2 linked regions of the Homo sapiens genome follow. The protein of the gene in region 2 purifies or fractionates together with the protein of the main gene of each other region. This does not show direct contact. Each region holds a gene or a part of one and is shown on either strand. Other genes may lie near its edges.

Evidence for each region.
Region 1: the proteins of ZKSCAN1 (region 2) and GRHL1 purify together in Homo sapiens (co-immunoprecipitation; one large-scale study listed by IntAct). This does not show direct contact.

What each region holds. Positions count from the first base shown.
Region 1 is NC_000002.12:9,961,453-9,965,272, forward strand, and holds part of GRHL1 (grainyhead-like protein 1 homolog), read left to right. Parts: intron 1-1,002; coding exon 1,003-1,079; intron 1,080-2,433; coding exon 2,434-2,590; intron 2,591-2,782; coding exon 2,783-2,894; intron 2,895-3,820. UniProt on the Homo sapiens protein: Transcription factor involved in epithelial development. Binds directly to the consensus DNA sequence 5'-AACCGGTT-3'.
Region 2 is NC_000007.14:100,021,795-100,025,614, reverse strand, and holds part of ZKSCAN1 (zinc finger protein with KRAB and SCAN domains 1), read right to left. Parts: intron 2,721-3,820; exon of another isoform or gene 2,561-2,720; intron 2,197-2,560; 5' UTR 2,109-2,196; coding exon 1,683-2,108; intron 1,462-1,682; coding exon 1,308-1,461; intron 1-1,307. UniProt on the Homo sapiens protein: May be involved in transcriptional regulation.

The sequences.
Region 1 (3,820 bases), on a different chromosome or scaffold from region 2:
ATCTTCCTAAGACGCCTGCGTGTTTGTATAAGTATTGGGTTCCACCTTTTCCTTGTTATGTAAGCATGAAACTCAGCCTGAAATGAATGGATTAGGAATAAAAGATTTTTTTTTTAAGAGAAAAGGCCCATGGGTATAATTTGTAAACTAAACCTATACAACCAGAAGTTATTATCAAGGATGCAAGGCTAATCTTACCAGCAGCTGAGTTAACAATTATGATTTCAGCTAAGGGATTTGCTGGAGAAAGAGAACCCCATACATAATCTTCTGTTGACCACAGGTAGATTCTCCTAGTCTGTTTTCAGCACTTCTCCCAGTGCCAAACAAGCTCCCTGGAGCTCATATAAAATGAGTTATTATATCTTTGCTTGGTGTTTCTTGGTTGGTAATGTAGTCAGGGAGAGCACAAATGCATTGTGTGAGGTTTACAAATTAATTCCAAATAGTTCTGGGGGTTTTATGGTGATGAATACCTCACTCAGCTAAAAGTTAGGGACTAAAGGTGTTAGAAACCATACTTAGTGACTTGGTGGGGTAAAGAGCATCCATCTCTGCGTATGGAGTTAGGGGCAGAATGTTAGCCTTTCCTGAGAAAATGCACCACATCTCTTCAGCTGTGGTGTGAACTTGATGCTGTGTCTTAACTTGGTATAATGATAGGGTGACTTTTAAAAGTCATGAAATTTTGGTTGCAGGTCCTAGTGTTTGAACAGAGTTGGGATGTGTGTGAAAGACAGAAAAGGGGGTCGTGAGTCAGAAGCACTTAGTGGGAGTACCTACACAGCTTGTTGTAATTTACTTGAGTGGCATATAAAAGTGGATATTTTCTCTGTTTTAATTTTTTAAGTATTTGTAGAATCAAAATTTTTACTCAAAAATAAATATGGAAAGGATAGTGGGTTGCTGTAAGCCACATACTTTTATGCGGTACCAGAGCTTGGTCTTTAGTAAGCATGATAACCAGTTAAATAGTTGTGGCTTATCACATTGATATTTCAGGTTTTCTTCCCCTCGGATCTCAGTCTGCGGATGCCTGGCATGAATTCAGAGGACTATGTTTTTGACAGTGTTTCTGGGTAATAGATGTCTTTTAATTTGATTTTTAATTTGCAGCTTTTATAACTTATTCCTTTCTTGTTAACTTGATAAATCAAAGGTGGCTTTAGCAGGCTTTCCCCTTATCTTACTACTTTTACTGTGGTACAGTCTTGGGTAGAGGACATCTGCTTCAGTGCTTTTAATTTTGAACTCTTTGAACTATGTTTCAAGTTTCCTTAATTCTTGGTGTTGGTGCTTTTTCTTTCTTTTGGATTCTTTATGTGATGGTAGTAGAATGGAATCTAATAGGAGAGATGAGGGGATTAAATTAGGTCTCTGAGGTCCTTTCTGTTGCCAAATATATATAATTAGGTGAGAATTTAGGAGTAATATCAAGTGATAAAAGCTTTTTTTTTTTAAAATCAGCCTCACTAATGATAAAATAAATGAAGTCAACTTTTTTCTGAGCTGACAACTTTCTTTTGACCTCACAAAATTGTATCTCACTCTGGGAGTATGAATATTTTCCAAGTTAATTAGGAACTCATATTTTGTTTTATGTGTTTTTTACATGTGTTATATTTTACAGTTTTAAAAGTGTCTAAGATTTTATGGGAATTGAGACTTCCCTTATAGATCTGCCTCAAGATGCAGGAGTCCCAAATGGAAATACCTTTAGGGTTTAGGATAGGGGTCAGCTAACTTTTTCTGTAAAGACTCAGAGAGTAAATATTTCAGGCTTTGTGGGCCATACAACCTCTGTATATTTTTGCAACTACCCCGGTCTGCCATTGTGCAAAAGCAGCCATAGGTAATGTGTAAACAAATGATGTGGCTATGTGCTAATAAAACTTTAGTTACAAAAATAGGTGTAATCTGCTGAGCCGTGGCCTGGGAAGGTTCTTAAACAACTTTAGGGGCATATATGAGTGGTAGTGTTAGGTAATAGGTAATGTCGAGAATTGTGGAGTGCCTGCCTATTAAAGACATTTAAATTACAAGTAGGAACAACAAAAAAATGCTATATAGGCCAAAAGGAATTTAGTCAGAGGAACACCAGCCACCTGTCTGAAACCTCTGCTGGATAAATATCAGATTGGCAGCATGTCTTGTGAGAAGTTCCTTCCAAAGTCCTTTCCACCTATCAGTATCTTTAATATCTCGAGCCCTCAAACTCAGGATGTCCGATTACTGACATCCATCACATCATAGAATTTTTAATCGGCAATTTGTACTTCCACCTCTGAGAGACTTGAGAATTTTTAGCTGCTGAGTACTTTTGTTTCAGATTTTCTTTAAGTGAAAAAGATAGCAAATGCTATTTATAATATGATGTATAGCAAGCTTCCACGAGAGTAGATTTAGAGACCTGTGACTTTTTTTGTCCTTTAGGAACAACTTTGAATATACCCTAGAAGCTTCAAAATCACTTCGACAGAAGCCAGGAGACAGTACCATGACGTACCTGAACAAAGGCCAGTTCTATCCCATCACCTTGAAGGAGGTGAGCAGCAGTGAAGGAATCCATCATCCCATCAGCAAAGTTCGAGTAAGTTCTGCTCTTAGTCCTGTTCTCTAGGAAAGCTAGTCAGAGCCTAACATTTCCAGGTCTGAAGCAGCTCTGAATGACCGCCTGAAATTGCAGCTTTAAGCCTTCACTGTAAAATATAGTACTAAATACGTTTTCCAAAACATACTCACCCTTTAGTGTCTTTATGTTGTAATGCATTCTCTTTCACAGAGTGTGATCATGGTGGTTTTTGCTGAAGACAAAAGCAGAGAAGATCAGTTAAGGCATTGGAAGTACTGGCACTCCCGGCAGCACACCGCTAAACAAAGATGCATTGACATAGGTAAGCAGCTCAAGAGCCCGCTTTTATTCCCAGAGGTGCAGCCATCCAGTTTTCTAAATCCAATTATTTTTGGCAGTGATCAGCTTCCTGCCGAAAGCATTTGAATTTTTATGCCAGCTACTGATCTGTTCCAAACACTGTCCTCGGCCTCCTGGAACCAGTGCTCTCACCATTGCTCCCATGCAGTAATGGGACATGTGCCCACGTGGTGGCTTTCCACAGGACACTAGGGCCAGAAGCCATGTAGCTGGCTAACCTGAGAATGTCCCCACTGTTCAGTCTGCAATTGCTTTAAGGGGTAATATCTTCTTTAAAAGATTCTGATTATTATTTGGAGATGATGGAGGTAGAGAAAAAAACAAGTAAAAGAAAGATATTGCTGCTGTGCAGTTGCCTAACAGTCTTCCCTAGTCACGTGCTAAACCGTGTAACTAACCTCTCTGTGGGCTGTAGTGGCAAACCTGTGCAAATCTGTATTTACTGAAGTAGCGTTACACAGACCTCTGTTCTTGCCATGTATGTAATTTTCATGTAAAACCATTGTCTGTATCACAGATGGCTGTTTAATATTAGTGTTACTTTTTTTCTTTACCTTTTGTAATGCTCTTGTTTCCTTTTCAGGAGAATGAGAACTCAGTTCTAATCTTGGTTCTACAGAGTAGTTTTGTGACCTTGGGACTGTTATTTAAACTTTTTAGACTTAAATTTCCTAATTGTGACATAATGAGATTGAATTAAATATGTCTAAGCTTGCCTCTATTACAAAAACTCTGTGATTCTTTTTCTTCGTATTTTGAACTTCTTCTAATCGAACAAAATGTTAATTTAAATTGTCCAGAGGTGATAATGCTAAAAACTAGATCTTATTTTGAACTGCTGGGATCCCATGTTGAAACTAAGACTCATGAGTTTTCATTTTCTCTTCC
Region 2 (3,820 bases):
TTAACATTGCACTTACCATAACTTATCCCTGCCATTAAGTGATAAATGTACTTTTAGCATTCCTTGTCTTTACATTCTAAGCACATACTTTGATTTTAAAACTGGATAAATGTATTACATATTTCCGTCAAAAGAGAAAAAACAAGTAACATGACTTTTTATTTATATGACTGTGAACTGATCTTTTTTCGTGTTCCTCAACTCCCCTCAAAAGTTCTTCCATTCTTTTCCCATTGTTTGAAATTTCTGAAAATAACCTAGAAAAGACTGATGCTATAGTTTTTTTTTTTTTTTTTGGAAACAGACTCTCTGTCACCCAGGCTGCAGTGCAGTGATTATTTTTATATATTTTAAATAAAATGGACCTTTAAAAAAGATTTATGATCCTTTTGAAGATAATTCATGACATACTAAAATGTTTTAAAACCTAGGCTGAAAATAATGACATCTGTTCCCAATACTTTCCTATTAAAAATGTGCTGGACATCTGGAATGCTGATAATTCAATAAATAATGCCTACCAGGTTCATTACGCATAGTTCATTTGCCTTCGTAGTAACATTTAACTCCTGAGATTGGTCTGTAAGTTGTATTTTCCCCAATATTTGGTAATAATGACAACAATGTAGAATAACTAAAAACAAAAAACAAGCATGCAGCTTTTTTTCATTTTTTTTTAAATTTTTAATTAATTCTTTTTTTTTTTTTTTTTTTTTTAAGACAGTCTCGCTCTGTCACCAAGGCTAGAGCACAGTGGTACGATCTCGGCTTACTGCAACCTCCACCTCCTGGGTTCAAGTGATTCTCCTGCCTCAGCCTCCCGAGTAGCTGGGATTACAGGAATGTGCCACCATGCCTGGCTAATTTTCATATTTTTAGTAGAGACAAGGTTTCACCATGTTGGCCAGGCTGGTCTCAAACTCCTGACCTCAAGTGATCTGCCCGCCTCAGCCTCCCAAAGTGCTGGGATTACAGGTGTGAGCTACCGTGCCGAGCCTAATTCTTTTCTGTAAGTAGCTTTTGAGACAGGGTCCTTGCTGTGTTGCCCAGGTTGGAGTAGTGGCATGATTACAGCTCACTGCAGCCTCAACCTCCTGGGCTCAAGCAATCCTCCCACCTCAGCCTCCTGCGTAGCTGGAATCACAGGTGTGCGCCACTATACCTGGCTAATTTTTCTATTTTTTGTAGAGATGGGGTCTCGCTACGTTGCCCAGGACTAACATGCTTCTTCATCACAGGCACTCAGCAGCACAAAGACTCTCGTCCTGAATCATTTCCCTTCCCCTAAATGAAACCTTGCTTCTTACCTCGTGACTGTAAGAGGCGGGGTTTCCGAGACGAATGTTTGAAGTGGGACTGGGTGGCCTCGTGATGAAGGTCAAAGCTCGAGGACTCCTGAACTGGATCCAGAGGCACCATCCCCCTTGCGAGCATCTCAGGTCCATGAACTTGACCTGGGACCTGAAGACAGACAGGTTGGGCTTGTGGGTAAATCACTTTGTAAATGGGAATTAAAATATTTAAAAACAGACCATGAGTATGCCAGTGGATGCAGGAAGAAAGCCAGAACATTTTTAAGACAGAGTAACCACCTAATAACCTAAAGCCTGCCAATACTTCTCCTGGCTCCAGTTTCAACGTCTGTGCCCTGCTCACACATAATAGGTTTCACCTCTTTTTACCTGTTGTCCTGATAAATCAAGCTCCAAGTCTTCTAGAAGGGTCACGGCCTCCTCTCCACTATCGGGGCGGTATTCCTGCAGCCAGACCTGGAGCTCCTTGGGCAGGATGGAAAGAAACTGCTCTAGCACCAGAAGCTCCAGGATCTGTTCCTTGGTGTTTATTTCTGGCCGCAGCCACTGATGACAAAGTTCCTTCAGCCGACTGAGAGCCTCTCGGGGCCCAAAAGTGTTCTGGTAACAGAAGCGCCTGAAGCGTTGGCGGAATATCTCTGGGTCTGGAGGAGGCGTGTCCTGTAGGGTGGAATCCTGCCCCCACATGTGGTCTTCCTCATCTTCCTCTTCCACCTTCACTATTACGATACCATCCTTCTCCTGTGCAGCCTGTGGGGACAGACCCGTGGCTTCCCGTGATTCAGCAGTCATCATTCAGGCTCCAGGAACTGACTTGATCCAAACAGGGTCTGTGCTCACCTTTATGTCCTGGGAGGTTTTATGATGTGTTTCTTTACTATTCCTGAAGTATAAAAAAAAAGTCATTAGTACGTACCTTTACAAAAAGTGATCTGTGCTGCTAACACTTTATAGGAGGCAGCACATCGAGGCACTATCAGAACGCTCCTGAGGCCGGGGGTGGTGGCTCACGCCTGTAATCTCAGCACTTTGGGAGGCCGAGGCAGGCCAATCGCCTGCGGTCAGGAGTTCAAGACCAGCCTGGCCAACATGGTGAAACCCCGTCTCTACTAAAAATACAAAAGTCAGCAGGGCATGGTGGCAGGCGCCTGTAATCCCAGCTACTCGGAAAGCTGAGGCAGGAGAAACGCTTGAACCCAGGAGGTGGAGGTTGTAGTGAGCCGAGATTACGCCACTGCACTTCCTACCTGGGAGACAAGAAGTTAAACTCCGTCAAAAAAAAAAAAATCCTGACAAATCGAGGAAAAAACTGTACAATCTCCACTGTCACTTCATATATCAAGATTTGCAAACAGAAACCTCAAACAGGCCGACTCCACCCTCAGGGTGTTTGCTTGGAGTCAGAGTGATTTACCTGCAGGTTGACAGCAGGTTACGAAATGGAGCATTAACAGTGCCCAGCCCAGAGAGCTGAATGTTAGCAGAGTGCCAGGTGCCAGGCTTAAAGCAGTACACGCACCATCTTCTTTTGTCCCTACAACAGCCCTAGCAGGTCGGCCAAACTGTTAAGTGCTGTTTTACAAATGACATAACTGAGGGTTAGGTTTGCTCAGTAGTAGGTGGCTGCCTACTGGAGTCAATATTCAACCAAATTTGAAGCCCTGGGACCTACTTTTGTACCATCCAGCTACTTTTGCTATTTTTATGAGTGACTTGGGCAGTTAAATTGTGGTTTCCAAAGTACAAGATGATCCGCAAAGGATACAGAAAGAAAATAATTGGAATGTCTGTATCTTAAAAGAGAGAGAAATTAAGCTATAAATTGACACTAATACACTTACTTAGTCTGTGCTGACCTGTCACAGGTGTTGTTCATTTTAGACATTGTGATGTAGACTGGTTTATCTGAGACCAGTTATGTGAAATAATGGATTTCTAAATCTAGCTTTGGCTGGGCGCAGTGGCTCATGCCTATAATCCCAAAACTTTGGGAGGCCAAGGCGTGCGGATCACGAGGTCAGGAGATCGGGACCATCCTGGTCAACATGGTGAAACCCTGTCTCTACTAAAAATAGAAAAATTAGCTGGGCGCGGTGGCGGGCACCTGTAGTCCCAGCTACTTGGGAGGCTGAGGAAGGAGAATCACTTGAACCCAGGAGGCGGAGGTTGCAGTGAGCCGAGATCGCGCCACTGCACTCCATCCTGGCCACAGAGCGAGACTCTGTCATAAAAGAGACAAGCAGCTTTAAAGATTCTTGTGGCCAGATATGGTAGCTCATGCCTATAATTCCAGCCCTTTGGGAGGATGAGGCAGGAGGATGCTTGAAGCCAGAAGTTTGAGACCAGCCTGGGCAACATAGCAAGACCCTGTCCCTATGAAAAAGAAAAAAATTAGCTGGGCATGGGGACTGTGTCTGCAGTCACAGCTACTCAGGAGGCTAAGGTGGGAGGATTGCATGAAACCAGAAGTTTGAGGCTGCAGTCAGCTACGATCACGCCACTGCATT